4 separate regions of the Homo sapiens genome follow, and regions 2, 3 and 4 are each linked to region 1. Evidence: fine-mapped expression QTL. A gene starts in region 1. Each other region holds a variant in brackets. All regions are shown on one strand. Distances are between the middles of the regions. Region 1 holds the start of AMIGO2 (adhesion molecule with Ig like domain 2). Region 2 holds the start of PCED1B-AS1 (PCED1B antisense RNA 1). Region 3 has its middle 9.9 kb from the start of LINC02156. Region 4 has its middle 37 kb from the start of LINC02416.

Region 1 (8,108 bases):
AGGGATTTAAGAAGTTACTCAGACATTTTGGTATTGACACTTACATATTTATGGCAACAAATTATGATGACTTTAAATTTTCAATGAGATCTTTTGTACAAGAATACAGAATGGGAAGAATGTACAAAATGAAAAGACAGGCAAACAAATGTACTTTCCTTGCACTATTTCTATAACACCATATAGGATGTGGCATTATCCAGTACATTTTATCAGTGTAGTCTATTCATTCTGGTCTAAAACGGTAATTTTGGCTGAATAACCCCCAAATCTAACTTTGCTTTAGGCTTTATAATTAATTGATGCTTGATTCTTCTTTCTACATCTTTTAAAAATGAAATTGGACACTAGTGTTTTTCTTTAAAATAACTCTGGTACTAGTAAGTTAGCAAAGTCTATTTTTAAAGGACACTAATACATAAAGTTTATTTTTTCTTTCAATATCCTAAATAAAGGGACAATGGGAGTCATATCACCTTTGGGCCTACTCTGAAATTACCAATAGTGCTAAAAGCTAAGATATTGTGATCTAGAACTTAAACTTTGGAAAACAACCCCATCTTTCTATGGCACATTGAGGAACTGAAGTACTTTACCTCATTTCCTACCAATCATTTTAAGAGAATTTGGTTGTATTTCAAAGAACAAAACAACACAATTTCTGTCCTGCTGTTTATTTTGCAGACCACACACAAAGTTAAATATGAACAGATTAAATTATGACATCATACAAATATAGGCACAAATTAAGTGGACGCCACAAAAGGTGTGTCAGAAAACACTGAATTGACTGAATCTGAGTCAGATTTCCCCCTCGTGGACTTTAGGATGCCCTCAGCTATCACTGCCTCGCTGGGAAAGAGCCTGACTTTCCCGTTCTGCCCTGCTGCAGTATCCTTCAGGGGTTCCAAAAACACCACTCTTTTACCTGCACCTGCCTTCCGTTCATCAGCGGAGGCATCACTAGCGGGGCCAGGACTGAGAATCGATGAATGGGCATTGCTTTGGTGTAGCATATTTTTCTGTCTCTTGGTTTTACACTTGCAGGGGCATGGAGTCAGATAGAGGTACAAAAGTACCAAAACGATACTGGCCACGCAAGCAGCAAGAGTGGTAAAAGCTGTGTTAAATGCCTCATGAGCATGGGATCTGCTTACAGTGAAATTGCTCACATTTATTGTGACGTCCACAGTTTCATTTAACAGGCGTTGCTTATTCATTGCGATACAAGAATACACTCCAGCATCCTCAAAACGAGGGCTTTCTATAACCAGACTTCCATTGTGAAACACGTAAAAGTTTTCCATCTCTTTATCCGGCTCTAGCAGTCTGTTATCTGGACCCACCCAGATGAAATCCGTATTTGCATTACCTGTCTTGCTGTCACAGTGGACCATCAGTCTTTCCCCGACCTGAGCCTCATGAATAAAGCCAAGCGCACGAAAGGAACCATTGATGATGCTGTCAGAGCAATTCATAAAGCTATCCTGGAGCAGAAGTACCTGACGCGAGTGCCTGGAGTCAGACCACAGGCGACAGGTGTAATCGTTCTTAAAATCCATCACTGAGCTAAAGTGCCTACGATACCAAAAGACCAGCAAGGAGTACAGGGAACAGTCACAGACAAATGGGTTTCCATGAAGGTAGATGCCTCTCAGCTGTTTTCCTGGCACTAAATTTATGTGGTGCATTGGCATGGAAGGAATTCGGTTATAAGAAACATCTAAAAACATCAGTTCTGCCAGCTTGAACCTTCCAACATACAAATCCATCGGAAACTGTGTGAGAAAATTTCCACTTAAGTAGAGTTTCTGCAACTGGGAGAGCCCTCCAAACGCTGAAGGATCGAGATAGGATATGTGATTGTTGTAAAGCAGAAGCACTTCCAGAACCTTCAACTCTTGGAATACAGCATTTTTCACCGTCTTCAGCTTATTGGACGATAAGTCAAGACACTTCAAATTTGGAGTTGTGGAAAAACTGCCCGTGGAAATGCTGGTGATGTTGTTATGACGAAGAATTAGGGTGTTCAGCTTTGCAAACGATACTGGAATCCACTCAGAATCCAGAAGCCCAATTCTGTTATAACTCAGGTCCAGTCTCTTAATCAGTCTGAAAAGGTTCCCAGGCACCTTGGACAGGTTTTTGTTGGTGCAGCTGACGATGTCAGTGGCACAGATGCAAGCGGTGGGGCACACCCCAGAGGCACCAGGGCCCACAGTCACTGTGATCATCAGCAAACACAGCAGCTCCCTGCAGCCCGGTCTGACGACGGCTCCAAGCAGGGTGGGCAGAGTGTGTACACGTAACGACATTATGGTCGCCTCTGAGTCTCTTCCCGGTGTCTTTTCCACCGGCTCAGCCTCCCACCAGTGAACCTGGCAAACAATTAATAATTCAGAGGGAGTAAAAAGCAGAAACTGACTACCACTAGTTAACCCATAAGAGCCATACCTTACTTTCTTTCCAATAACTTTTGAAATGGGTTTTATTTCACAATAGGGAGCTCTGTGTTGCCTCTTCACTGTTAAATGTATTTTTTCCTCTTTCCTGGGTTAGTCCTGCTTATAAAAATGTACAGTCACATTCTCTCCATACAACCCACCGTCTCACCCACCATCAGAAACTCAATTTTTTCCTAAGGTGCATCCTGCGTTGTTGTTGTTGTTGTTGTTGTTTTAAACTCCCTCCAACAGACACAACTATACGCAAACGTACGCTACAAACAATTAAACGGAAATACTTAGCAACCACCCATCCAGGAAAAAACTCACGGTGCTGGGGAGCCTCGTGGGCTCCGGGGAGGCTGCCTACGCAGTGCCTTCCGAAGGTCTGCGCGTCCGTCTGTCCGTGTCTGTCACTCTTGCACCTTCCGACTTCCTTTCCCTCCGGCTCCCGGCGGGCGGCACCCTCTAGCCGGCTCTCAACTTTGAGGAGTTTCAAGCAGCCGCGGCGGCAGCAGCAGCCCTGGACGCAGCAGCCAAGCTCTTCGCTGGCTCCCGGGGGCTCTCCCGGGTTCCTCTCATTGCAGGCTGAAGGTACCGCCTCGGCGCTCTGGCCGCCGTGTGCCCGCGCGCGGGGCGCCCCGCTCCCAGAGCCGGGGCCGCGGGAGGGGGCGCAGGCAGCCGGGCGGCAGCGGGCGGCCCCGCCTCTCCGCACTCGGGAGGCTGCAGGACCCGGGGTTCCCGCGCGCCCGGGGCCGGGAGACGGGCTGGGGCGCCGGTCCCACCCCTGCGCGTCCTGCCTCCTGCGGGCAGCAGCTCGGAGCCTGCGGGAGGGAGCAGGCTGGGCGCGTGGTGGGGGGCGCGCGATGCGGAGGGGGCGGCGGCGCAGCCAATCCGAGAGGCGGCCGGCGCCCCCTCATACCGCCCCGCGGCCTCGCCGCCTCCTCCCGCTTTCCTCCTCCAGCTCCCACCCGGACCTCTAGAACGGCCGCGCAGAGCGGGGAGGGGGCAGGGGTCCACACCAGAGGCCCAGACTCTGGTCCTTGAGTCAAGATGCCCAACCCACTCGCCTACCAATTACGTCCCTTCGTCCAGCTCCAAGCCGGGCGGTAATGGGGTCCAGGAAGGCTAAAGGGGACACGCCCAGCCACCGAGGGAGGGGTCTCACCCTTGGAGACCCACTTCGCGGCGGCCGCACAGGTCACGTCTCTCTCCCCACCCAGGCCAAGGAATCCCCGGACCTCTTAGAGCTTTGCTTTGGGGCAAGGGCCAAGGAGGCTTTGCCTGCGCCAAGTGCAGTTGACTGTCTGGGTTTACAAAATAAACCCAGAAGCAGCCTGACGTCTCCGCTCGTTTCTAGGGAGGAGGTCGCGGGGAGGGAAGTCGGGAACGTTTCCTCTCCACAGGGATATCTGCTGGGAGGAAGTAACCGGGAAATCGCCACGGGGACACCCCTCACCTCCCTGGGAAAGTTCTATCCCTTTCCTGACTCAGGAGGCGGCAACAGGGATGGTGTCCAATTCAAGAAGGAGGAGGGCAGGAAAGAAGGCTTGGAGCCGACCTTCCGGCTGGAATGCAAAGATAAGAGTATTAACCCAAATAATAATAATAATCCCAGAGCAGACCTTTTTTTCTTTTTTCTCTCTTCTCCTTCCCCTCTTCTCTCTCCCTCTCTCTCTCCCTCTCTCTCCTTTCTCTTTCGTTCTCTCTCTCTCATTTCCTCTGTCTCTGTCCCCGCCACCTCCCCGTCTTTTGCAAGCGTGCTCGTGGCGCGTGCGGGACAGGGAAGTAAGGGGCGTGTGCGCGGAGGCTCTTCATCCCTTCCGGAGATGCCGCGGCCGACCAGCGCGCTTTGGTTCAGCAAGCACAGAAGGTGCAAGCCGAACAAGGCCATTCAGAAATGAGGTGGAGACTATGAGGCTGATGAGCTCTACGATTAAAAATCCATTTTTGTTTAATTCCAAGATAAGTTTTAACGATGGGATTTGAGTGAGTCAGATCGCCCATTTGGCCATTATATCCGGATTAAAAGAAATAAATTACTGCCTTGACAAAAGATGCCAACCACAGTGGAATGAAAAGCAACCAAATTGAGGAAACAGTTGGGGCAGGATAGATAACTTGTAATATTACTTAAAAATAAAAATGATGAGGACAACCAACTCTTCCTCCCCTCCCCCGCGCACCTTTTCACTTGAGCAATCTTGAATTTAGTGAAAGTTGTTTCCTACATGGTCCGTGAGTCATTGCTGTGGTCAGGCAGATTTGTTAGACCAACACCTAATTTAAATAGAATTGTTTGTGGAATAAAGCCGGGCTAGCACTAATAAATCTAGGCATTTTCAGATGAGGACAACTTGATTCAGATTAATTTATTTCATGAAAGTTGAATTTTATCATAAGAACACAGCCTAAAATGCTTCATGCAAGCATTTCTTACTGTGTACTTAAAGGGGAGAGGCAGAAGTTGAGATTTTCTAGTATTAGGCCACACTTCCTGGGATTCTCAAAAGCTTGGTCTCCAGGACTTCAATTTTATAGAGTTAGAATAGTTAATACAGAGGAATAGAATTAAAATCGCTCAGAGGAATATTTTTTAAATGACTAATAAATGACCAGGTTTTTGCAGGATTTTACTAATTAACATCGTATTTTAAGGAAACCATGAAGGCAGAAGAAAGACCTGTATTTAATGCAAAAATAGTCTAAAAAGAATAAGTGATTCAAAAAAATGGAAACAGGAAGGTTATATTATTATAACTACAGGCATATTGTAGAAACATTATGCAGAGATTACACAGCAAAAGTAAACTAAATGCACTCAAAATCCATAGACAAGGCTATTTATCCATTTGAAGACCTGATTTGGGGGATTTCACATGTTTGTGAAAGGGAAGAACGTTGTAAAAGGATTGAGTTTACTAGCTGGGAGGAAAGAAAGATAAGAGTTGATCTTAAGGTATAAGACGTGACCTTATTTTGTGGAGGATAACATTTTTATCTTTCTAGCATCCCTTCTCCTTCTAACAGATTCCCTCTTTCCACTAGAAGGTAAATTCCAAGAGGATAGCAGTTTTATCTGTTTTGTGTATTGCTGTATTCTCAGCTCTCAGAACCCTGCTTAACACATTCAATAAATTTTTGATAAATGAACTGATGAACAGGGAACCTATTCAAAGTGGTTAAGATAACGGTTTACCCCAACTGAATCTGCTGGTTGCTGTCCTGCCTTTTATGCTTTGAAAGCTTGTCTTAAAAAAAAGGAGAAGAAAGAGAAAGAGGAGTCCTGTAAATGTTATTTGAGTCCTGGATCTGGTAGTACCTGAAGGCCACTGCATACTTTTACTTCCTTTTTAATTATATTTTCCACCCCACCCCCTTTTTTAGCTTAAATTATTTTGAGTTGCATGTCACTTGTGACGGACAGAGTACTAACACATGTAATGATGGTGATAATAAATATGTACTGAGCCTTTATTATATGCCAGACACTGAGCTATGCGTTTTACATGCATTATTTCATTTATTGCTCACCACAGCCCTGTGACATTATATAATCCTATAACCCAGATGGTAAACAACTGTGTTCCAAATTATTTGAAAATGAAATGGGATGCAATTATCTCAAGGTTCTATTTGAAGGATTTAGATTAAACAGAAGAGAGACGTTTCTGCCAGGGTGGTTCCAACCTGGAATGGGTTGCCAAGACAGATGGTTGAGTTGCCTTCTCAGGAGTTTAAAATAGGATGCGATAGATATTCCTCTGGCCTCTTCCACATGACATAATACATTGGAATTTTTGACCATTCAGTAATGACTCCAAGGGATAGTAGAATGTGGCTTGACACTTGACATAATTCTGAATCTAGTATGCTGAGAAGGGGGTGTGGTCATGTGAGTGTCTAGCTGGGTTTGGAAATACTATCTGCCTGAGGCAGTAATTTGAGGTGATGAAATCACAGGAGTTCTAGCCCTGTAATTTCCACAATTTCTCAGGTTGTAATCAAAGATTTAAGTAATTAGAGATATGAGACAAGAAATTAATAGCACATGTTTGATGATTCTAAGTCATTTTTACTAATAATTAACACTTCAATAGCACTTTATGTCCTAAGAAGGGCTTTCACATTCTTTATCTCCTTTGACTCTACCACGCGTCCTGTAGTCAGGTGGAATTTATACACTGGCAGATATCTTGTTGCCTCTTTTTTCGGCGTGAGGCACACTGGGTGTTCTTTGGAGATGGAGCTCACTGGGGTCACTGATTGCTGCATGCAGGAGCTTCCTGTGGAGTTTCATCACTCTGGCGGGCAGCACTCTTAATAGGATTTTTACAGTGTAACTTAGCTTGAACCCACAAGAAAAACATACCTTTGCCCAACAACTATGGAAGTGCACTCAGCTCCTACAGCATCCTGTTCTTCTCTTGGCCTGCTCCAGTTGGTTTTTGTAAATTGCCTAAGATTTTTTATAGAACCAGATCTCTCACCCCATCCTGTGTCTTTCATTATATGGAGATACATTTTCTGGGAAAACTCAGACTCCAGCTCCTGTGCTTTCTGAACTCCAGGAGGCATGGGTCAGCTTATGGCATGTTTCTCTGGACGCTCCCTTTACTTGGCTGGAAATGGGGGGATAGAATGGGAGTATTCAGTATTCTGCAGGAGGTACTGCATGTCCTCCCCAGGAAGAGCTCACAATGGGGCTACTCTTTAAGCAGTCTCCACTCACTCATCTGGTTGGTCTGTCTCTTATCTTCATTGACATAGGCCGGACAGTTTTTTGTTTTTTAATTCACTTGAGATAAAATCCACATGACATAAAATTCACCATTGTAACAATTTTAAAGTGCGCAGTTCAGTGATTGTTTAATATATTCACAATACTGTGCAACCATCACCACTATCTTAATTACAGAATACAGATGCTCCTCAATTTACAATGGGATTACATTCCAAAAAAAACTCAATAAATAAGTTAAAAGTGCATTTATTACACCAAATCTACTGAACATCATAGTTTAGCCTAGCCTGCCTTAAATGTGCACAGAACACTTACACTAGCCTACAGTTGAGCAAAATCGTCTAACACAAAGTCTATATTATATTTAAAAAAGTGTTGAATTGCTCATGGAATTCATTGAATACTATACTGAAAGTGAAAAACAGAATGATTGTATGGGTACTTGAAGTATGGTTTCTACTGAATGTGTATCACTTTTGCACCATTGTAAAGTTGAAACATCCTAAGGCAAACTGAACCATCATAAGTCAGAGACTGTCTGTATTTTCATCACCCCAAAAAGAGGTCCTATGCCCATTAAGCAGTTACTCCTATTTCCCTTTCTCTCAGCCCCTGGCAACCACTAATGTACTTTCTGTTTCTATGGATTTGCCTATTCTGGACATTTTATATAAATGGAATCATTCAATATGTGTTTTTTTGTGTCTGGCTTCTTTCACTTAGCATGTTTTCTAGGTTTGGACTGGGATTTTTAGCTAAGGGTTGCACAGAATCTGTTAGGATCACGCTGTTGAAAGACCTGCATAGGTTAGCTGCACTTTAACTTAGAATGTGGTTGTGGGGACCAAAGTTCCACTTACCCAGAGTCTTGAATTATAAAAGTATTAAAACTCTGTGTGATTGCAGAAACCTACCAAAAT
Region 2 (8,108 bases), 140 kb after region 1:
TCATTTGCATTATTACAGCTCTTCTGTTCTCTGGTCTTGGGATGATTACAGAGATTGTCCTTTTATTCTCACAGTGCACAGACTAGCTGAAATCTACAGAACTAGAAAGATTTGCAATTCATTTATAGAATTGCTAGAACTAAATAATGGCAGATTTTTCAAAGTTATGTAATAGACTACTCTGGATTATAAAATACTAAAGCTATCAGTTGGGTTCTGCCTTGATTCTATTAAATTTCCCGGTAATGACTGTACTAAAACTCATGGGGAACTGCAAGATAACTTTATTGATGGCCATAGAGGATGAAAACAATGCATAAGGTATGGAATTAATTTTAAGCCACACACTGAATAGACAGTGATGTAAAGTAAAATGATATTTTTCAAGGAAAGACAATTATGTCACATTATAATCCAGTTTACATAAATAGCATACTATTAAAAAAAGCTAAGTCTTCAGAGCATGTAATTCAGGACTGTTGTGAAACCTCTTACTCTTGTTGGTTAGTTATTTTGTGCTGTAAGGGAGGGAAAATGGCTTCCTCCCTACTTCTAGGTTCTTTGGCTGGGATACAAATTAAATTGACATAAAACAGATTAACAGGAGAAAAAAACATTTTTGGCCAGGCTCGGTGGCTCATGCCTGTGATCCCAGCACTTTGGGAAGCTGAGGTGGGAGGATCACTTGAGCCCACGAGTTCAAGACCAGCCTGGGCAACATATTGAGACCAAATCTCAATTCAAAAAAAAAGAAAAGAAAAGGAAAAAACATTTTTAATTATATGCACACACACTGGAATCCCCCAGGTAATAAAAGTTGTCTGAGAGCAGGACTCTTCCTGATACAGATACTTTGACTAATGTAGATTTCTTTTATAAATATAAATTTATTTTACAAAAGGACAGCTTTTCAGAGATACTCTTGTGTCTGCAGTTGCTCAGAATAATCAGCTCGAAATATGCCAAATAACTATATTTTGGGGTGGCATATTTTTTATTTTTGAGATGGAGTCTCGCTGTTGCCCAGGCTGAGGTGCAGTGGCGCAATCTCGGCTTGCTGCAACCTACGCCTCCTGGGTTGAAGCGATTCTCCTGCCTCAGCCTCCCAAGGACCTGGGATTACGGGAACCTGGGGGTGGTATATTCTGATCTTCTGTAGTCATGCACTGGGACCTTCTGTAGTCATGCATTTTCTCTCTCTCTTTTTTTTCTGATTCATTATTTCCTTTTCTTTTTCATCTTGGTATTTGTAGGGAAAGTGATATTCCTCTCCCCGAAATCATATTATTCCAGACAAAAGAAAACAAATGCCTACACTTATCTAATCAATCAGAAGACCATCTCCCCCACCCTTTTTTTTTTTTTAAAGATGGAGTCTTGCTCTTGTCACCCTGACTGGAGTGCAATGGGACGATTTTGGCTCACTGCAACCTCCGCCTCCTGGGTTCAAGCGATTCTCCTGCCTCAGCCCCCCGAGTAGCTGGGATTACAGGGGCCCACCACCACGCCCAGCTAATTTTTGTATTTTCAGTAGAGACGGAGTTGCACCATGTTGGCCAGGCTGGTCTCGAACTCCTGACCTCAGGTGATCCACCCGCCTCGGCCTCCCAAAGTGCTGGGATTACAGGCATGAGCCACAGCGCCAGACGAACCATCTCCCTTTTAAGCACGCTGTCCCCTTGAGTTACCTGCTGGTTTCAAGTGGAACACTAAGGGAGGAAGCAGAAAGTTCTTATCTTGCTCTGCCACATACTGGATCTAGCTGAGGCTGGGGCTCAGGCCTGTGGTTTCCTGTAGTGTGGACTGAGCCATTTTTCCATCAAGACGTCAGTGGAGAGATGAAGTGAAAGGATTTAAAAGCGGTTTGTGGCCTGCCATGGTGGCTCACCCCTATAATCCCAGCACTTTGGGAGGCCAAGGCGGGTGGATCACCTGAGGTAAGGAGTTCGAGACCAGACTGGCCAACATGGTGAAACACCATCTCTACTAAAAATACAAAATCAGCCGGGTGTGGTGGTGGGTGCATGTAGTCACAGCTACTCGGAGCCTGAAGCAGGAGAATCGCTTGAACCTGGGAGGCAGAGGTTGCAATGAGCCGAGACCATGCCACTGCACTCCAGCCTGGGCAACAAGACCAAAACTCCGTCTCAAAAAAAATAAATAAATAAAAATAAAAGCGGTTTGTAAACTGTAACACCTTGCACAGAAACACAAGATTACTACTATTAAATATTATTTAGAAAAGTAGAGTTCTTCTTACCATTTCCCTGTTTCTTTCTTCTCACTTCCTCCTTTCCCCTTCTGACCATCTTTTCAGCCGTGAACATACCACACCAGCAAGAACAATAAGAGCCAAGGGTCTGAATTGTTTAATCAAAGGAAGAGTCAAAATAAGCTACACCCAGATTACTGAGAAAGGTGAAATGAAAACAAGCTCAAAACCAAATTCCAGGAAGATGCTGTCTTTGTATTGACTTACCATTTCATGTTTTCACACATGTCAAAGTCTTGAAGCTTCGGTCATTAGTCTTCCGCTTCCTAAAGCAAGAAACTAAATGCTGACTTGTGTCGTTTGCCCCAGATGCCACCGGAAATGTCATCTTCTCCCCAGACGCTGGCTTGCAAGCACAGCAGCACCCAGAGGCTAACCTATTTCCCCTATAGCCCAAGCTCTGAGATCTCCCGTCTGGTCACAATGATCTACAGGAGAGGAAGAAAGCTATCTAGGGACGAGATCTAGAATCAACTGAGAGAGATGCTTAAAAATCACCAGTTACTTTAATGAGTAAGTACTTTTCAGTTTTTCCATTTTATCTGAAACTTTAAGTTGGCATTTCTGACCAGCCTTTCTTGAGACCATCATTTTTTGGGCACTTACTGTAGACAGGAATCAGCACCCTAGCCTCCTTCAGCCCACCCCATGTAACACTAAAGAGACAACTGGTGCTTGGCAATAACAAAAATATTAGTGATTGATAAACTTGTAAATTTATTAAAATGGACAGTGAAAGAAAACAGCCAATTTAGTTGTGAACTGGAGAAGGGACGTGAGGCATCTGTTGTCTGCAATCTTGTATGTTGTGGTTGACCACAAAGGCTTGGCATCAGGTTTTACTTCCAGCACTACTTCTTATAAAATGGATGACCTTGGGCAGATTACTCAATCTTTTAGCCTTAATTTTTAAAAGTATAAAATGGAGAAAATTAGAATATGTAGTCCAGGTGCGGTGGCCCACACCCGTAATCCAAGCACTTTGGAAGGCTGAGGCAGGTGGATTATTTGAGTCTAAGTTCAAGACCAGCCTGGACAACATGATGAAACCCTGTCTCTAAAAAAAACTATAAAAATTAGCCAGGCATGGTGGCACAGGCCTGTAGTCCCAGCTACTAGGGAGGCTGAAGTGGGAGGATTGATTGAGCCTGCAGAGTTGCTGCAGTGAGCCATGATTTCGCCACTGAATTCCAACTTGGGCAACAGAGTGAGACAAGAAAGAAACAGAGAGAGAGAGAGAGACAGAGAAAGAAGAAAAAAAAAGAAAGAAAGAAAGAAAGAAAAAGAAAGAAAGAGAAAGAAAGAAAGAAAGAAAGAAAGAAAGAAAGAAAGAAAGAAAGAAGAAAGAGAAAGAGAGAAAAGAAAAGGAAAGAAAGAAAGAAAATAATTTCTTAGGTTGTTTTTGTTTTTGTTTTTTTGTGATGGAGTCTCACTCTGCTGCTCAGGCTGGAGTGCAGTGGTGCTATCTCTGCTCACCGCAACCTCCGCCTCCCAAGTTCAAGCAATTCTTGTGCCTCAGCCTCCCAAGTAGCTGGGATTACAGGCACGCGACACCACTCCCAGCTAATTTTTATATTTTTACTAGAGACAGGGTTTCACCATGTTGGCCAGGCTGATCTTGAACTCCAGACCTCAGGTGATCCGACCGTCTTGGCCTCCCAAAGTGTTGGGATTACAGGCATGAGCTACCGCGCCCTTCTTAGAGTTCTTAAGAAGAATAAAGAGATAAACTGGTAAAACATGTAAATACTTTTTGGAGGGTATGCTAAATAATGCCACTAAATAATTAATGTTGCTAAATAATAAGTTAAATGCTTCATTTAACTGGAAATCTCCCTTAACCACTAAGCCCACTTTCCAGATATGCTAAGGTGGCTCAGAATAACAATAGCAGCGAACATCTGTAGAGTTTACACAGCATTTCATTTGATTTCCACAATTAACTCTAAGGTAGGCAGTGCAGAGCTGTTGACTTATTTTTGGAGCTGGAGGAGAAGAGAGAAGCGAGAGCTCGGCTGGACACGGCAGCAGGGAGAAAAACCCCTAGGTCCGTTGTTGGCACTGAAGTGGGGAAAACCATGGCCTGGGGAAAGGCCTAATGTGAGAAGTTAGTCGGTGTGCATAGGCAGTATGACATTCATTTCACCAGCACAAGATTCTTGTTCCTCAGCTTCCTTAGTCCCTGGACCTTGCTTGTCCTTTCTTCCGCTCCAAGCCGTAGAGCTTGAAACTGGCAAGTCCTCAGTTGCACTGCCAACAGGCAAAGCAGTGGGAACTCAAGTTTCCAGAATCCTCTACAACATAGTGTGAGTAAAAGCCAAGGCAGAGACAGTGTCTTGCTCTGTCATCCAGGCTGGAGCGCAGTGGTGCCATCACGACTCACTGCAGCCACAAACTCCTGGGTGCAAGGTATCCTTCCACCTCAGCCTCCTCCTGAGTAGCTGGGACTACAGACATGCGCCACCACATCCTGATCATTTTTAATTTTTTTTCTTTTTTTTTTTTTTTTTTAGAGACAGAGGTGTAGCTTTATTGCCCAGG[G/C]TGGGCTTGAACTCCTGGTCTCAAGCAATCGTCCCTCCTTGGCCTCCCAAAGTGTTGGGATTTCAGGTGTGAGCCACTCTACCTGGCTGAGACTTGCTCTCATTTTTAAATTCAAAAAATGTTTTCCATAGATCGGCCGCCTGTGGAAAAAGGTGACTCAGGCCTGTAATCCCAGCACTTTGGGAGGCCTAGGTGGGTGGATCACCTGAGGTCAGGAGTTCGAGACCAGCCTGGCCAACACGGTGAAACTCCGCCTCTACTAAAAATAGAACAATTATCTGGGCATGGTGGCAAATGCCTGTGATCCCAGCTATTCCGGAGACTGAGGCAGGAGAATCACTTTAGCCCATGAGACAGGGGATGTAGCGAGCCAAGATTGCACCACTGCACTCCAGCCTGGGCAACAGAGTGAGACTCTATCTCAAAAAACAAAAATAAAAAAGTTTCTTTTTCCATAGAAACACTATTACACATAGAATTTAAATACTACAAAAATGGTAACAATAATGATAGCAACAATAATAAAATAATGTCCATTTTTAAAACTCTTTTGGGTAATCCCTTCAGAGGAGCATAGGTGCTATTTCCCCCATTTAAGAAGTAAAAAACTAAGTAGCACAAAGATAAAGTAAGCATTAGAGGTGGAAGAAATCCAGGCCTGCTGACTCAACCCTAGATTCCTGTTACTGAGTAAATGGACTTTTGTAGCTAGTCCTGGAGCAGAATTGTCACAATCCAACCTGTTCATCAGTTGAAAGCACTCGTCATTATTAGCTCTCCAATCGCCCTTGTTTTTCATCCATGGGAACTTTTAATTCAGCCACTGGTTGGAATCTAGAGTAGTCAGCATAAGCCTAAACATTTGAAACACAAATATAGCTTTAGTGCAGCACTGGGTTTTCCATCGGCTTTTAAGAAGACTAGCTAACAGAGTGATGAAAATCGAACTAAGTTATTTCACACCTGCTTTGTTTTCTCATGGAAAAATTTAAAGCTGTGCACAAAATATTGTTTTGTTTTTCAACAGAGAATAACAAGGAAAGCTACATGCAAATATTTCTTTCTAGATAATATGATTTTTTTTCTTCTTAATTTAAACAAGTATTTATAGCTGAGATTAAAAGCTCAGGCTTTGGAGCCATACTTCTTCCTAAAGAAACAAAAGGAAACCTTAAGCTTATCTAATTATTCAGAAGATTCACTGTCAATAATGGGTGTGGTGGCATGAGCCTAAAGTCCCAACTACCTAGGAGGCTGAGGAGGGAGGATTGATTGAGCCTGGGAGGTTGAAGCTGCAGTGAGCCGTGATCATGCCCCTGTACTCCCAGGTGACCAAGGGAGACACTGCCTCAAAAAAAAAAAAAAAAAAAAAAGAAGAAGAAGAAGAAGATACATTGTCAAAAGAATAGTTCTGCCATTTACTAGCTGGGCAACCTTAGGCAATTTATTTATTTATTTTTAATTTATTTTTTGAGACAGAGTCTCATTCTATTGTCCAAGCTGGAGTGCAGTGGCGCGATCTTGGCTCACTGCAACCTCTGCCTCCCGGGTTCAAGCAATTCTCTTGCCTCGGCCTCCTGAATAGCTGGGATTACAGGTGTGTGCCATGACACCAGGCTAATTTTTGTATTTTTAGTAGAGACTGGGTTTCACCATGTTGATCAGGCTGGTCTCAAACTCCTGACCTCAGGTGATCCACCCACCTCGGCCTCCCAAAGTGCTGGGATTACAGGCGTGAGCCACTATGCCCAGCCAACCTTAGGCAATTTATATAACCTCTCCATGCCTCAGTTTACTTATCTATAAAATGGAGATAATAATACTTCCTCCTTCACCGGGTTGTGAGAATGGAATAGGCCTGGCACAAAGTGAGTGCTCAGTGAGTGCCGATGATTACTAGGCACAGGCACTGGGCCCTGAGGGGTACAAGGATGGGTGAGACCCACTTCTGCCATCCAGAACTAGCATAGAGTGGGATAGAATGGCACATGGGCAGTTAATTATAGAACAAAACAGAACCAAAGGTTAAGTAGAGGCATCCCTCAGAGGAAGGAGAGATTTTTCTATCTAGGAGAGTAGGGAAGGCTCTCTGACAAAATTGTCTTTTAACGTGAGTCTTAATGAAGGAGCAGAATTTCAGTAACAGGAAAGGGTTGGGGAACATTCAAAGGTGAGTCACAGAGACAAACATAAAGACATGAGAAAAGGCCCTCTGGGCTTATACAAACCCTATGGTTCCCTGCGGGCTTTCAGAAGATCCCAAGAAGAAAGGATCATATCCCAAGACATAAAAAGTTTACAGAATGCAAAATGTTGGAATTATTCTAACATATTAAATGAATTTGAAACTTTAAAACCTAGATGATGAAGTTTTATGTAAGAAAACATATAAAATTAAAACTATACCAATTAAAAAATAATGTTTTAATCAAAGACACACTTTTTAAGGACTAAGAAAAATTGGGGGAAAGTAAAATATTTAACCATAAAACTGAAAACAAATGTGACATTGATCACTGTGCTCAGCTTCCCAAAATATATATTGCAACATTCCCCTCCTCCCTAAGCTATATCTTCAAAATATATATATTGTTTCCAATATTTGTTAGACATCAAAATTCTTTTTTTTTTTTTTTTTTTTTTTAAGAAAGGGATATCACCATGTTGTCCAGGTTGGTCTTGAATTCCTGGGCCAAGTGATCCTCCTGCCTAAGCTTCCCAGAGTGCTGGGATTACAGGTGGTGAGCCACCACGCCCCGCCAACATGAAAATTTTTAAATGATTGCCAGGATACAGATCAACCTAAGGATTTCTTCACAATTAAAACAAAACCAGTCATCAAAAATAAAAATGACTTTATCCACACATTTCAGAAGCAAAGTATATTTCCACCCAATTATGTATTCCCAGCCAGTGCTTCAAGAAAAATTATACAGCAGCTCTCTGAAATTGCCTGGTGAGAATGTGCTGCCATCATTCCCATTGTTGGTCAATGCAATATTTACATTTAGGGAGACTGTTCAAAGGTCACAAGACAATTATTTGAGAAATTCAGCCACAGTTTGATGGGAAGATAAATGAGTGTCTAGAGAAGTGGGAAGTGGCTGGGCATGGTGGCTTATGGCTGTAATCCCAGCACTTTGGGAGGCCAAGGCAGGAGGTTTACTTGAAACCAGGAGTTCAAGACCAGACTGGGCCACAAAGCAAGAGCCTGTCTCCACAAAAAATTTTAAAAAATTAGCTGGGCATGGGATGCACACTTGTGGTCCCAACTACTTGGCAGGCTGAGGCAGAA
Region 3 (8,108 bases), 320 kb after region 1:
AGGTCTAATATCCAGAATCTATAAGGAACTTAAACAATTGAACAAACAAAAACCAAATAACCCCATTCAGAAAGACATGAACAGACACTTCTCAAAGGAAGACATACAAGTGGCCAACAAGCATGAAAAAATGGTCCACATCTGATATGGTTGGGCTTTGTGTCCCTACCCAAATCTCATCTTGAATTGTAATCCCTATAATCCCCACACGTCAAGGGAGAGAACACGTGGAGATAATTGAATCATGGGGGTGGTTTCCCCCATGCTGTTCTCGTGACAGTGAGTTCTCATGAAATCTGATGGCTTTATAAAGGGCTCCTCCCCCTTCACTCAGCACTTCTCCTTTCTACTGCCTTTTGAAGAAGATGCCTTGCTTCCCCTTTGCCTTCCATCATGATTGTAAGTTTCCTGGGGCATCCCCAGCCATGCTGAACTGTGAGTCAATTAAACCTCTTTCCTTTATAAATTACCCAGTCTTAGGCAGTTGTTTATAGCAGTATGAAAATGGACTGATACAACATCACTAATCATTAGATAAATGCGAATTAAAGCCATAATACGATACCATCTCACACCAGTCAGAGTGGCTGTTAGTAAAAAGTCAAAAACAACAAATGTCAGCGAGGCTGAGAAAATAAGGGAATGCTCACACTCTGTTGGTAGGAATGTAAATTAATTCAGCCACGGTGGAAAGCAGTTTGGTGGTCTTTCAAAGAACTTAAAAGTGAATTACCATTTGACCTAGCAATCCCATTATTGGGTATATCCCCAAAGAAAAATAAATCATTCTACCAAAAAGACACATGCATTCATATGTTCATCACAGCATTATTCACAATAGTAAAGACATGGAATCAACCTAGGTGCCCAGCAATGGTGTACTGGATAATAAAAATGTGGTACACATACACCATGGTATACTATACAGCCATAAAAAGACTGAATGTCCTTTGCAGCAACATAGACATAGCTGGAGGCCATTATCCTAAGCAAATTAACACAGGAATAAAAACAACAAATATCACAAATTCCCACAAGTGTGAGCTAAATAAGCATTGGGTACTCAGGGACGTAAATATGACAGCAATAGATACTGGGGACTACTAGAGTGAGGAGGAAGGGAGTGGGGCAAGGATTCAATAACTATTGGTACTATGCTCAGTACCTGTGTGACAGGATCAATCATACCCCAAACCTTAGCATTGTGCAATATACCCATGTAACAAATCTGCACATTTCCCCCTTGAATCTAAAATAAAAGTTGAAATTAATAAAAAAAAATGAAACCAGGTTTGCTGGCCCTGATGCTAGCAGGCACACTAAGCAGTTGACTTCAGGGTACAACTTGAAAAGGACAGAAGCAGTTGACTTCAGGGTACAATTAGAAAAGGCCCAATTTAAAGTGTCCACTACCATCCTGTCTCAGATATGGAAATCCCACCATGAGTTTTGTCAGACTCAGTCTTGGTCCTTGCCCACACAGCATCCCTCAAATCCCCAATCAGTACCCATCAGATCTCCATTCCTGGCAAATGTGGGACCTACCACCTGTCCCTGGAACCCACTGAGACCTGAGGCTGAGGCTGTGCTAGATCACCCAACCAGCAGCCTAGTGACACTTAGAACATCTACAGAGCAGAGAAATAAAGGAGGGAAAGAATTTATGCTTGATTCATTTGGAGCATTACTGTCAGGCATGGTTCTAGTTGCTAGAGACACAGCAGAGAATTTATACCCTTAGATTTTAATAAGGGAAGACAGACAATAAACAAAATTTAAAACACCTTATATGGTATGTAAGAAGGTGATAACACATAACAGGGAAGGAGATAAAGAACGTGGGTTAAGGGGAAGTTAGAACTTTCCCGATATATATTTTTTAAAGCTCTGATGAGGTCATCATGAGAACAAATAAGATTTTTGTTGGTCTTTCATACAGTTATTATAGAGCTTCATGTTGTTTATATTTTGAATTACACATGGCAGGTGTGGGAGAAATGTGGGCATTTAGAACTCCTAATTTTGTCCAGAACCCAGGCAGAGCATGAAGTGCACCAGCCTCAGTCTGGGCCCAGTGTGATTACTAATATAAGACTCAACCTTTGCATCCTGATTCTAATCATTGCCACCTGCCATCTCCATGCCCAGACACACCCCTCTACCTAGGCCCAGGGCTGATGAGGATTCATGGATGCCCTGATTCTAGAAGCCTGTTCTGATGACCTCTCTGAGTTCAGTGCTCCCTGAGGTTCCAATTCTTATAGCTGGGTTTCTGTCTTGGTAACTCTTCTTCAGCTCAGAGTCTGGTCTTCTCTTTAAAGGAAACCTGAGGCCAGAGCTGTGCCTTGTTTTTGACAGTATCCATCCCTGAGGACTAGACAATCCTCCTGAGTCCAGTCCAGAGTGGGGCACCTTGTGATACACAGTTGGACCCCTAGCTTGCCTGCCTGCTATTTCAGAGACATCCACTGACCACAGTCGATAGGACAAGCCATCTATCCCATGGCCCTCCAACTTCAAGTCTGGCTCAGAACTTGACATACCCTGAGAAACTGACCTTGTTCCTCAAAGTGCTTTGAAGCTAGCCTAGACCCCTGGCTTCTTCATGCCTATGAGAAAGTGATATTGTAGGCTCCAGCCCCTCCTCTCTGACACTGCCCAGCAATAACTGGCCCTTTCAAATGCACGTCTATACTATCATCCTTTCCTTCAGAATTCTTCTCTCTCTCTCTTTTCTTCTCTCTCCCCTTTCTTCCTTCCTTCCTTTCTTTCTCTTTCTTTCTTTCTTTTTTTCTTTCTTTTTCTTTCCTTCTTTCTTTTCTTTCTTTCCTTCTTTCACAGCTTTATTAAAGTAATTTCCATTCCATGACTTTATTTTTAGTAAATTTAGAGCTATGTATATATCACCACATGCCAGTGTTCAAACAATTTCATCACCCCAATACACCCCTCATGTCCATTTGTAGTCTAGTGCCATTCTCACCTCCAACCCCAGGCAACCACTGACTTACTTTCTGTCTTTATAGACTTCGCTTTTCTGGACATTTCATGTACATAGAATCATGCAATGTGTGGTATTTTACATCTGATGTCTTTCACTTAACATACTGTTTTGAAGATGTGTCTATGTCATAGCATGTATTGGGAGTTTTTCCTTTTTATTGAATGAACATACCATATTTTATTTATCCATTCACTTGTCGATGGACATTTGGGTAGTTTCTAGTTCTGAATAATACTGCTCCATGAACATTCATGGACAAGTCTTTGCATGGACATGTGTTTTCATTCCTTTTCAGTTTTTTTTTTTAGCACAAATCATATTTAAAGTGGGAACATAATTAATCAATAATGCTTTGACTTAAGTTACTACAGCTTAAGAACTGGAGGACTGTAAGAGAGGAGAAATACAGTGGCCGAAAGGTGGAAAAAGGAACATAGGAGTAAATTCATCTCCTCAAGGGGCAAAGAGAGGAAACAAAGGCAGTCACAGCCCCATCCATGTGTCTCTGCTCCCTGGTTTAGATGGGAGAAAAATAAAGCAGCCTCCAGGGAAATGTAGCTTCATGTAATTATCATGTTTGATGAAAAAAGTCAATCAATTGTTGAGGTGTTTTCAAATATGCAACTGTTCCACATGCATGGATGGAAGGTCCTGGTGCCATCCTTTGCTTCTCACTCTCCTTCACCTCCCCATTCCACTGCCATCACCCAAGTCCAGACCCATCATTCTTTTTTGCATGGACCACTGGCCTCCTTATCTGCTAACTGAATTTCTTCTCTTCTTTCTCCATGCACTTCCAGAGTACTCCTTCTTTAGGATAAATCTGACCATGCCACTCTTCTGATAAAACCGATCGAGGTTCCCCAAGACCCCAGCTTGTGTCATTGGTCTCATTTCTCACCAGCGGCTACTCTGCTCCTATTACCCGCTCCTTCATAGATTACCTTTATTGAGGTAATTCACATTCTATGATTTTTTTTTTTTTTTAGACGGAGTCTCGCCCTGTCGCCCAGGCTGGAGTGCAGTGGCGCCATCTCGGCTCACTGCAAGCTCCGCCTCCCAGGTTCATGCCGTTCTCCTGCCTCAGCCTCCCGAGTAGCTGGGACTACAGGTACCCACCACCACGCCCGGCTAATTTTATATATATATATATATATATATATATATATATATATATATATATATATATATATATATTTTTTTTTTTTTTTTTTTTTTTTTGGATTTTTAGTAGAGACTGGGTTTCAGCGTGTTAGCCAGGATGGTCTCGATTTCCTGACCTTGTGATCCGCACGCCTCGGCCTCCCAACGTGCTGGGATTACAGGCTTGAGCCACCACACCCGGCCACATTCTATGATTTTTTTAGGTAAATGTAGAGTTGTGCTGTTTTTAAGTAAATGTAGAGTTGTGCCCATATCACCACACGCCAGTGTGAGAACATTTTCATCACCCCATTTTCTTTTTTCTTTTTTTTTTTTTTTGAGGCGGAGTCTCGCTCTGTCCCCCAGGCTGGAGTGCAGTGGCGCGATCTCAGCTCAGCTCCGCATCCCGGGTTCACGCCATTCTCCTGCCTCAGCCTCCTGAGTAGCTGGGACTACAGGCGCCCGCCACCATGCCCGGCTAATTTTTTTTTTGGTATTTTTAGTAGAGACGGGGATTCCCCGTGTTAGCCAGGATGGTCTCGATCTCCTGACCTCGTGATCCGCCCTTCTCGGCCTCCCAAAGTGCTGGGATTACAGGTGTGAGCCACCGCGCC[T/C]GGCCCATCACCCCAATATTTCCATCACAGTATGTAGACACTCTGTGCCTCAGCCTTTTGGAAACACTTTGTCTCCCAAATATTCTGCTTTTTTCCCTTCCAGGCTTTCGAAACTGCCACTGCCTCTGCCTGATACATTTTCCTCCTTGACCCTCTTAACTCCTGCTCATCCTCATGTCTCACCTTAGACACCTCTTCTTTCTGGAGGCCTCCTCGAGCCCACAAAGAGTAGTAGCAGGGCCTCTCTTGGATGCCTCACAGAGTCATCTCACCTCAGGCATAATATTCATCACACGATGCCCTTCCCTGTTTACATGTCTGTCTTATCCTGTAGACCAGAAGTTTCCCAAAGACCAAATCAATGCCCTCTTCACCAGTGTCTCTGTAGCAGCCAGCACCGGGATCTGTACAGCACATATTTATTAACAACTGCCTCCAAGGCTCAAACCAAATGGCATATTATGTCCATAAGAGCAAGATTTGGAGAGGAAAGCTTGAGACAAAGACTTCAATTTCTTGTGTGTTCTTATTAATCAGATGTTATTTACACACACACACACACACACACCTGTGAAGAATGCAGGCAACTCCAGCATGGTGACTTTTTGGGCCACTGTGGATTGTGTGGGTTCTAGTGCTGGCTCCTCCATGCAAGAGCTGGGACACCCTGTGCAATTCCTTCAGTCTTTCTCCATCTGCCCAAAGAGCTGCCTATCTTGCAGGATTATTGGACAAATCTGGTAGTGAATATAGATTGTGGATCTTAAAAATGACGAACAACTATATAAACATAAGGAATTATCATATACTGCTTCTCCTCTGCTTTTCAAAGAAATCCCCTCGCAATCTTAGAGTTACACAACAATAACCTCATTGCTTAGAAAAAAAATTATAACAATAATTCCTTGCATTAGGATCATAGCAAATGTCTTCAAAGTACTTTCAGGTCCATTATCAAATTAGATCCTCATTAACGGGTAGGAAAAGTAGAAATTATTATCTCTATTTTATAAATAGTGAAACTGAGACCCAGAGAAAATGTGATTTACCCAGGGTCATGTAACTGTGACACAAAGCTTCAGGAAAGAGTCTTCAGGGCTTCAGTTTTCTAGTTGGGCTCCGCTTTTGCCATATTGGACTTCTCCTAAGGATTTCAACTCTGGAATGTTTCATCTTGCATGCCCTCAAATACCCACCCCCCAACACACACACACACACACACACACACACACACACACACACACACAGAGAGAGAGAGAGAGAGAGAGAGAGACATGCCCCAATCTCTAGGCAATCACACAATCTCAAGTTCACAGAAAATTCCATCCAAGAAAATACTTGCATCCAGAGAGAAACACAATACAGACTCCTCCGTGTGCACCCAAGCAGTTGGGCAAAGCATAACACTTAGTTCTATATAAAACTAAACCTCTCATTTCAGGAAGTAATGGAAAAAAAAAATCAACCAAAATTTCTGCATTGAGATAATAAAAATATCTTTTGTTATTCCTTAAAGGCAGATTGTAGATGTACTACATGTTAATTTGCTGTCAATTTATTCATTTTTTAAAATATAATCTCCTCCAGTCAAGGTGGATTTAATTCCATTTTCATCTTGTGTACTTCCTTTCAAGGCTTGGTAATTTCTTTTCTATTTTTATCCATTCCACTTTTGCTTCCTGTCAATTTTTATATCAAAATCTGCTTCAGTTCCATTTGGCAAGGTGCAGTAACAAAAATACTTCTCATGCTTTAATGTTTAAATTTGCCATTGCACTTTAATATGGTTCTCTGTTTGTGCCAATGGCGTAACGTCAGCTCTTTCACTTGGCACAGATCCTGGACTTGCAGAAGGCAGGAGTTCGATTTCTATAATGGTTCTTCATCACTATCTGAAATTATCCTTTTTCCTATTCATTTAGTGTGCATTGCACACCCACTATATGCTAGACACTGTGTGTGTGCAGCAGGAATGCAGCTTACATAGGAGATAAAATAAGACAGCAACTGAAAAAATGCTGGTATATGATGTCAGCACAGGTGTTCTGAGGAAGACCGTGCCCCTGCCATCATGCAGAGGAGGAGGGAAAAGAACTGGGACACATACCAGTCACTAGAGGCCATGAGATTTTTCTCTTATCTGAAAGAAGAATATAAACTCAATGTGTCACAGACTGAGGCCATTCTGCAGCCACTAGGCCATGCGACATTAAGCCATAGGACACAGGTATGATTGGCTAGAAGCCTGGTCCAAGAAAGGGCCCTGTGGGAGTGCAAGGGACACTACTTCACCACTGAGACCACAGCCATGGATACAGACTCATTTTACCAGCATTTTGAACCACCTGTCATGCCACAGGGAGTGTCAAGAGCTCAGGCTCTGGAATGAAACTACTTAGGTTCGACTCCTGGCACTGCTACTCATTACCCATGTGCCCTGTATGTAACTAGTTTCCTCACCTGTAAAGTAGGTCCTTAGGATAAATAATTGAGTTGGTCAATATGAGTAATGGTTAGAACAATCCCTGGCACATAGTGAGCACTCAAGGTATTTGTTATCGTTTCCTGGTTTTGTTTTTTCAGGAAGTGAAACCCACAGGTTCTGTGGCTCTGCAGTGCCCTCTCTAGGATGCTTTTGTGGATGTGCAGTGGCTCAAGGTGCAGCAGGTAGGACAGAGCTGGGCAATTTAGCTGGTGCCAAACACAAGTGCACCATCTTACAGCTGCCCCCCATCCCTATAATTGCCATATCACCCTTCCCAGTCACCAGGGCAGGCCATTTTCTTCTCACATTGGGAAGAGAAGCACAGAGCAGAGTAACTGCCTCATAGAAAACACACATGAGAGAGTCATGCTGTCAGGGTTGAGGTTTTAAAATAACTTGCTCAAAATCATATGTCAGGCAAAAGCCAGAAGAGGAATTTGGACCCAGATCTGTCCAGCCTCAAATGTCTTCCCTCCCCACATTTCATCACAGTTTGAGGTGATATATAGTGTATACATATACACATATATCCTCACACCCCAGGGTGGACTTCAAGTTCACTGTAATCACATTGCACCTGTATGTAATATGGGGGTGGGTGAGGAGTGTGCAGAAAATCATACAGTCTCTTTGGCCCCAGGTACAACTAGAAAAATATTAGCAAATATTTTATTAGTTTCTACTTCGTCACCCTCTCATATACCACACCTGCCTCTCTCAGGCTTATCTGTCTAAATGAACAAGTACATTCATTCATTCCTTCTCTAAATGATTTTTTAGTACCTACAATGTTTTAGACACTTCGGTGTATAGGATAGGCAAAACTGTCACGTTAGGAATTTACATTCTGTTGGTGTCGGGG
Region 4 (8,108 bases), 240 kb after region 1:
TAGAGCATTGGCTGGCACATTAGAAGAACTCAATAAATATTTGATGGCTAACTATGTGTAATGTTCAGAAGTGTTAATATAGGAGACTAGATTGTAAACTCCCCACGTATTTTAAAATCTCATAGATTTTTAAATTAGGTTTTATATGAACCACCCTCTAGCCTTTTAGTTTTCCCCTAGCTTTACCTCCTCATTTCTAAATTTGTTTGTATTTCTAACCCTGTACTTTGTCAATGTGATACTAAAATAGCTGAATATAAAGTGAGATTTTGGTAAATGACCCATGATTTTTTTTTTAGTAATACCAAATGACAGTCCATCATAGCCAGTCTGTCTTCTGGCAGCCCTGATTTCTGAACTTTGCACATATTGGAGATTATTTTGCTTCTTTCTACCTACAGAACATGTAGGGGCCTGGGGATGTGGCAAGAATCTCACACCTCTTGGAAAGAGGAAGTGAAATTGGCCTTTTGCAACTTCATTTTAATAAAGGGCCTGAGTTAAAGTCTAATCCCAGCCGGCTGAGCCAGTGATAATGTAAGAGTGTGTGTGTGTGTGTGTGTGTGACCATTTTCCTTGGAGAATCCTGCTTCTTAGACTATAATCCTAGATATTATAAATGAATAAATAAATAAAGAACCATGAAACTCTGGTTGGCAGCGCAGGTTAATGATCTGATTGTGGCAAGAGAGGACCTTGAGTCTTATCAATTTTGTATGTTTGTACTGGGGGAGCTTGTAGGGAGGATAGGGTTGCAGCAAGTACTTGTGGAATATTGATGGATATTCAAGGCAAATATAGACCCAGGAATTATGAAGTAAGCACTTACAGGAATCCAAAAGCCCATAAATTAATGGACATCTCCAAAGCATTGTAATACCTTGATAGTATAAGAATCGTGCTCTCTAATAACTTAAAACATGGCCTTATTTTTGAAATCAAAACCTTCAGCATAAACACATGTCCCTTTTGTGCTTACATACCTTATGGCTGCCATTAGCTACAGCTCTTTATACATGGGGCACTGTATATTATTATTAAAACCATCCAGCAAAAAATGATCTCCTGTTGCAACTTTGAATGTACTTAGTGAAATAACTTTCCAGACCTCATAGAGCATTTGGAAATATTTTCCTTATATACAGAACTCTAACTACTAAGTACCATTCTTTCCCAAGGTCTTCAGAGTTCTTTTTTCTTTTCTTTTCTTTCTTCCTTTTTTTTTTTCTTTTTTGAGACAAGGTCTTGCTGCATCACCCAGGCTGGAGGGCAGTGGCATGACCATGACTCACTGCAGCCTCAACCTCCCAGGCTCAAGCAATCCTCCTGCCTTAGGCCTCCCAAGTAGCTGGGACTACAGGCGCATGCCACCACGCCTGGCTAGCTTTTTAATTTTTTTGTAGAGATGGTGTCTCACTATGTTACCCAGGCGGACAGAGTTCTTATTTCTAGGAATAATAACATGAATATTTACTCATTCATTAAAAGAGAAAGGTTTTACGCTTAATACTTTCGTTGTTCTGTTTTTTCTTAAGGTCAGCACCAGAGCTACTTAATAAATAATTGTGCTGTCCTGAAACCACTTTGGGGTAACTCAGCAGAGAACCCAGGCTGCCAACCCAGGGCAATATGAGTACAGTTCCTTCAGGCTGGGAGGGATCCTGGGCTTGTGGCCACCCTAGGGGCTGCATATTGTTGACTCAGGGAGAGCCATGCCTGCCTAAGGGTAGAAAGGGAAAGCCTGTAGCAAGCAGGAAGAGTTGATAGGTACTAAGATGGAGAACATTCATAATATAAAACCATTGTAACCACTTTTAAGTGCACAATTCAGTGACATTAAGTACATTCAAAATGTATGCAACCATTACCACTATCCATTTCCGGGACTCTTCCATCATTCCAAACTCCGTGCTCATTATACAGTAACTTTCCATTCACCCTGTCCCTCAGTCCCCGGTAACCTCTATCAAACTTTCTATCTCTATGAACTTGTCTATTCTAGGTACCCCATATAAGTGGAACCATATATTTGTCCCTTCTTGCCTGGCTTATTTCACTTAGCATGATGTTTTCAAGGTTCATCCATGTTATAGCACATGTCTGACTATTCATCATTTTAAAAATTCATCATTTTTAAGGATGAATATTTACATGACATTTTGTTTATCCATTCATCTGTCAAAGAGCAGTGAGGTTGTTTCCCATCTTTTGCCTACGGTGAGTAATGCTGCTATCAACACTGATGTTCAAGTATCTATTAAAATCTCTGTTTTCATTCTTTTGGGTGTATACCTAGGCAGATGAGGGTTTTGTTTTTGTTTTTGACCATCAGAGTTCCAACTGGTGCTACTTTTCCTTTTAAATACATTCTAGGTCTATTTGAGTTTTTTGTTTGTTTGTTTGTTTTTGTTTTGTTTTGTTTTGGGGGACAGGGTCTTCTTGCTGTGTCACCCAGACTGGAGTGCAGTGACACAGTGACATGATCACTGCAGCCTCAACCTCCCAGGCTCAAGTAATCCTCCCAACTCAACCTCCTGAGTAGCTGGGACTACAGGCATGAGCCACCGTGCCCAGTTGAGTTTTTAAAAAATTTTTGTAGAGAAGTGGTCTCCCTGTGTTGCCCAGGCTTCTATTTGTTACATAGTCATAACATCTTCCTACACCTTTTTTTCTGTCCCAAATAAGAATTACAGTGTGTTCATCAACTGGAGAAACAACTTCCCTATCTGGGTTTTCACCCAGAACTGCTCAGGTCCTCACAGCATCTGACAACAGCCAGTAGTTGAGTGTCTCTGCTTTCAAGAATTTCAAGGGTCAGGACCTCAGCCTGGGATTGGACCCCAAAAGTAAAGTAAACCATACTGCAATTTTGTGCAAAAAACAAAGATTAAGAGGACACAGGAAAGGGACAATATGAAAAATAATTTATTTTATTTTTATGACAAAAAGGAGTAGAGAAAATTAACATAGATGAAACATTTTTCCTTAAGCTTGTTTTAGTTTTGTTGATAAGATAGTAAGCAACAATGGGAATGGGAATTGACAAAGCCCAATTCATCTCTCATCTGATCCTTAACTGTACTGATGAGAGCATGTGTCTGATCCTAGAGAGGGAAGAGAAGAGTTTCCAGGGAGGGAAGCTGAGACATCTCTTATATATAAAATGGTTGCCCTAAAGAGACATGCATGGCTAAACTCAGGTGACATGGTAGAGACTGAGTTGTCTACCTAATATGTATTCTATTTTTATTTATTAAGCCTGACTGTGTTTGGAATGGCAATATACCTGTGGAGGCTAAAGCAACTCTATCTTGGTTGCTAATCATGTTGACAAAGCAAGGATGTGTCTTATTTATTTTTGTGCTCTTCTCACCCATCCCAGAGAGGAGAAAGTGTGGAGCACATAGTAAATCTTCAGAACATGTTTGATGTTGGATTGAATAATCTGCTTTATTTTATCATCTAATAACTCCTTAGTTAGATTAGACGGATGGCTGGTGAAAAAGTGTTTGGACTGATACTGTATTTATCTGCTCAGAATAAAAATATCTTACAAAAATCTATTATGTGTTTATGAAAGAAAGCCATCAAAATGTTAACAATAGTGGGATTGTCAAACTTCCAGATTTTCTGCACTTTACATATATAACTTTTGTAATTAAAAAATAGTTGATTTCCAGCCTGGCCAACATGCTGAACCCCCGTCTCTACTAAAAATACAAAAAATAGCAGGACGTGGTGGCACGAGCCTATAATCCCAGCTACTTGGGAGGCTGAGGCAGGAGAATCGCTTGAACCCAGGAGGCAGAGGTTGCAGTGAGCCGAGATTGTGCCACTGCACTCCAGCCTGGGTGACAGAGCAAGACACTGTTTCAAAAATAAATAAATAAATAAATAAATAAGGTTGATTTTAAAAATCTACTTAGAAAGCAGAGATTTAATTAAATATTATGGCTTTTCAATAATTTTTGTTGTGTACTATGCTCTCCCCAAACCAGTAGCCTAATAAAATTGAGTTTGAAAGTCCTCCATAAATTAACATGTTCTAATAATTCTATAAGAAAGAATGGAGATACAATATTTGATCTAGAAAGTGGATATCCAATGATCATCTGAGCAAGGAACACCATCCTCCTTAAAGTAAACAGCACACAGCTGTTTCCATCATGCTGACTGTAAGAAGATTATCATACTCAGAAAAGAAATTCCAGGAAACTGCGTTCCAATTAACATGGAAATGAATCCACAAAATAAATATGTATCCAGAGTTTATGCAATCCCAGGGTACAATGGAGACAGATGCAGATTGATCTAATCTGGTTGCATTAGGAATAAGAATGTTTGTTGGGGAACATTGTGTGGAAAGTTGACATTTGGTTCAATCAGGAAGGCCAAAGTAGAAATTATGAAAGCAATTT[C/T]CTTTGTCCAGTTAAATTAGGCATTCAAATAACAGGCTACTCTTTGACCTTCCTGGGAAAGGTCAGGATGGCATCGAATGGTCATTAAATAAATAGCAGGCCTGTTCTTGTAAATACTTTGTGAGACTTTAGGAAAACATATTCTGGATTGAAAATCAGCCAAAAAAGATCTGCAAGAATTTCTCTAACATATTTTTATTGCTTCTATTTATCCATTTTTAATTTGGAGAAATAGTAAGTACTGGTAAAAGCACAAGAACAAACTGAATATGGGGTCTATTGAACAAAATTAAGAGGTCACTTTTCTGCCACTTGCTAATATGTGCTGCAGCTGCTAAAAAAAGGAAGTTTTGTTGTTTGTTTGTTTTGGTTTTGGTTTTGGTTTTGAGACGGAGTTTCGCTCTTTTGCCCAGGCTGGAGTGCAATGGCGTGATCTCGCCTCACTGCCACCTCCTCCTCCCGGGTTCAATTGATTCTCCTGCCTCAGCCTCCCAAGTGGCTGGGATTATTGGCAGGTGCCACCATGCCTGGCTAATTTTTGTATTTTTAGTACAGACGGGGTTTCACCACGTTGGCCAGGCTGGTCTTGAACTCCTGTCCTCAGGTGACCTGCCCGCCTTGGCCTCCCGAAGTGCTGGGATTACAGGCGTGAGCCACCGCACCCAGCCAGAAAGAAGGTTTTTTGAAAAATAGCTCCTGTGGATGTCTCCCCAAGGCTCCACTTGATATAGCTAAGGAGAATTCCTGGCATGTATCATAAGATATATGGTTTCTTAATTAGATGGGTGACTTGCAGGACTAGAATTTAAGAACACTCTTCATGCTGCCTTAGGTTATAATTCCCAGCTTGCATTACAGCAATGGACATGCTGTTAATATTTTCTCCAACAGTCCAAACTGCAAGTATATGAAGTTAAATCAAATCTCTTTTCTTGTCCATTAAAGTTCAAGTTGCCATAATAAAAGCTGGCAAGTTGTTTTTATAAACACTAAATTAATAGAACAGATTTTGGCTGGGCACAGTGACTCATGCCTGTAATCCCAGCACTTTGGGAGGCTGATACAGGAGGATCACTCAAGTTCAGGAGTTCAAGACCAGCCTGGGCATCACAGGGAGACCTCGTCTCTATTAAAAATAAAAATAAAGACAACTAGCCTGGCTTGGTGGTGTGTGCCTGTGGTCCCAGCTACTTGGGAGGCTGAGGTGGGAGGATCCCTTGAGCCCAGGAGTTGCAGTGAGCTATGATTGCACCACTGCACTCCAGCCTGGGTAACAGAGCAAGACCTTGTCTCAGAAAACAAAACAAAAAATAAATAGAACAGATTTTAAAGTTATTTTTATATTATTCATACATCTTTTTTGCCCCTATCTTCTCATTCAGATTCAGATTTACCCAACATTTGCTATGTGTCAAGCTCCATGCTGGAGGATTTCATATTAAATTTACCATTATTTAGCCTTATAATTAGAGGTGGTTCAAAGACAAAGCCTGAATTAGGTGTTTTGATTCAAAATCATGGGTCCTTCAAAATATCAGTGGATTAGATTATTATCCTCGTGTAACTAAGATAATACAAGAAATATTTGGAGTCATATTTTAATGTGTTATCATTATTGTTATTGTAGAAGTAGTGTATATGCATCCATAATTTTTAAAATTTAAACAAAACGTAATTCCGTAAGTGAAAAGTAAAAGTTGTCCATCTTTTTCCTTCCCTACTCCCAGTTTTTCTCTACTGAAATACAGTACATTGTAAAAATGGCCATAATATTCTGTAGTTTCTCCCATTAAGAGGTAGAGTTGGCCGGGTGCTGTGGCTCACACCTGTAATACCAGCACTTTGGGAAGTCCAGCTGGGTGGATCACCTGAGGTCAGGAGTTCGAGACCAACCTGGCCAACATGGAGAAACCCTGTCTCTACTAAAAAATACAAAAATTAGTTAGGTGAGGTGGCATGCACCTGTAGTCCCAGCTACTCAGGAGGCTGAGGCAGGAGAATCGCTGGAACCCGGGAGGTGGAGGTTGCAGTGAGCCGAGATTTGCCACTGCACTCCAGCCTGGGCCACAGAGCAAGACTTCTTCTCACCAAAAAAAAAAAAAAAAAAAGGGTAGAGTCACCTTGAATCTGGGATGGCCTTGCCACATGCTTTGGTCAATAGAATACCACAGAACTGGCATTGAATGAGTTCCAAGCGTAGGCCCCAAGAGGCCTTGCAGCTTCCTATATTGTGTTCAAAGAGCACACTCTTTGAATAATGCCGTCACCATGTGACCACGCCCAGGATTGCCTGCTGGAAGGTGAGAAACCACATAAAGTACAGATGAGGGATCTCAGTTGAGACCCCTCAACCAGCCAAACCCCAGCCAACCTGGCCAGAACTGCTTGGATGAACCCAGCCTAACTTAATGGACTGAAGAATCATGAGATAAAAAAAAAAAAAAGGTTGTTATATTAAGCCACTAAGTTTTGGGGTAATTTGTTATGCAGCAGAAGCTAAATGATACAAGAGGTGACCATTTGAACAATTTCTGGCATTTGCAGACCATAAGGACACAAGAACAGCTATAACTCCATAGAATAATGAAATGATAAAGGAGAGAACCTGTACTATGAGCCTAACATGAACCTAGGGTAGGTAGAACTAGAAGACCATCATTAAGGAAATAAAAGGGAAGATGGAGAGAGTAGAGAGAGACAAAGTAAGGAAGGGGTTTTGGTTTTGTACAAACATGTAAATTCAAGCCTTCCTGCTTAAAAACTTCTCAGGCACAATACTTATGTGTTTGCTGTCAATCTAAGCAGATTTTTGTTGCCTCACCTTCTCAACTGGACAGAATTGCAGTGTGGATGGGCCTATTGTCTGGTTACCAGCAAAGAGAAATCTCATGATTGTGTTTGTAGGTTGAATTGGTATTATGTGGGTTGTGGCAGCTGCTGCCTGACTGACAGCTTCATCTCCTTCTGACCACCAAAGAGGACTGAGATGGCTCCAAGAAGGAGTAAGAGAGAAGTTGTCAACAACTTGGTGCAGAAAGGCAGGTGGAGCCAGTCTCTGCAGAGACCCTGGTAACTGAGCTCAGCTGGCATGTGCTGAGGAAATTCACAGTTGACCACTGCTCAGTACAGATGATGACTAAAGAAATGGCTCTCCCAGCAAAGGGAGAAAGATCCAGGCCAGTATACACTTAGTCTGTCACAGCGTCAGATCTGGAAATAGGGTAAGGGGAGAAAAGACTGTTTTGAGTATGTGATAGAACTCTGTAAGAGTATTTTTTAATGAGGAGAGCAAATGGGTAGTGAAGGGGAGAATTCAGAAATAAAACTCAGAAGACGAGCCCTCAGCAAAAGGGGTTTAACAACAATATAGGCTTAAATAGAAGGAAAACTCTCTGTGAGAGTTAGGACTACAAATGTTGCCATTCTTGGAACCAGCGCTTTGTACATAAATTGGTTTTCTTTTTCTCTCTAGAAGCTTTCGGGATCTTTTCTTTATATCTGGGGTTTTGAAATTTCAAAATGATTTGGCTTTTTGATGGACATGTTTTTCATTTATTTATTTATTATTATTATTATTTTGAGATGGAGTCTCGCTCTGTTGCCCAGGCTGGAGTGCAGGGGTGCGATCTCAGCTCACTGCAACCTCCGCCTCCTGGGTTCAAGAGTTTCTCCTGGTCCAGGCACAGTGGC

Evidence for each region.
Region 2: its variant is fine-mapped to the expression of AMIGO2 in blood mononuclear cells (TOPMed, PIP above 0.99). The same link has a PIP of 0.9 or more in whole blood.
Region 3: its variant is fine-mapped to the expression of AMIGO2 in monocytes after R848 (Quach 2016, PIP 0.95).
Region 4: its variant is fine-mapped to the expression of AMIGO2 in lung (TOPMed, PIP above 0.99).

What each region holds. Positions count from the first base shown.
Region 1 is chr12:47,076,688-47,084,795 of GRCh38, forward strand. AMIGO2 (adhesion molecule with Ig like domain 2) reads right to left here and starts at 3,272. Exons shown (of 3, transcript NM_001370299.1): 1 at 2,775-3,272; 2 at 2,455-2,561; 3 at 1-2,378. The coding sequence starts at 2,315. The coding sequence ends at 747. It overlaps PCED1B (PC-esterase domain containing 1B), which reads left to right and starts at 2,934. Exons shown (of 4, transcript NM_138371.3): 1 at 2,934-3,038.
Region 2 is chr12:47,213,905-47,222,012 of GRCh38, forward strand. It overlaps PCED1B (PC-esterase domain containing 1B), which reads left to right. Exons shown (of 4, transcript NM_138371.3): 3 at 2,318-2,785. It overlaps PCED1B-AS1 (PCED1B antisense RNA 1), which reads right to left and starts at 2,539. Exons shown (of 3, transcript NR_026544.1): 1 at 2,480-2,539; 2 at 2,261-2,360. RefSeq lists enhancers at 6,738-7,238, 7,534-8,108. The variant G/C (reference allele first, on the strand shown) is at 4,814.
Region 3 is chr12:47,401,087-47,409,194 of GRCh38, forward strand. No RefSeq gene overlaps it. Among named protein-coding and RNA genes, the nearest start is that of LINC02156, 9.9 kb to the right of the region's middle. The variant T/C (reference allele first, on the strand shown) is at 4,762.
Region 4 is chr12:47,312,511-47,320,618 of GRCh38, forward strand. No RefSeq gene overlaps it. Among named protein-coding and RNA genes, the nearest start is that of LINC02416, 37 kb to the right of the region's middle. RefSeq lists an enhancer at 309-358. The variant C/T (reference allele first, on the strand shown) is at 4,419.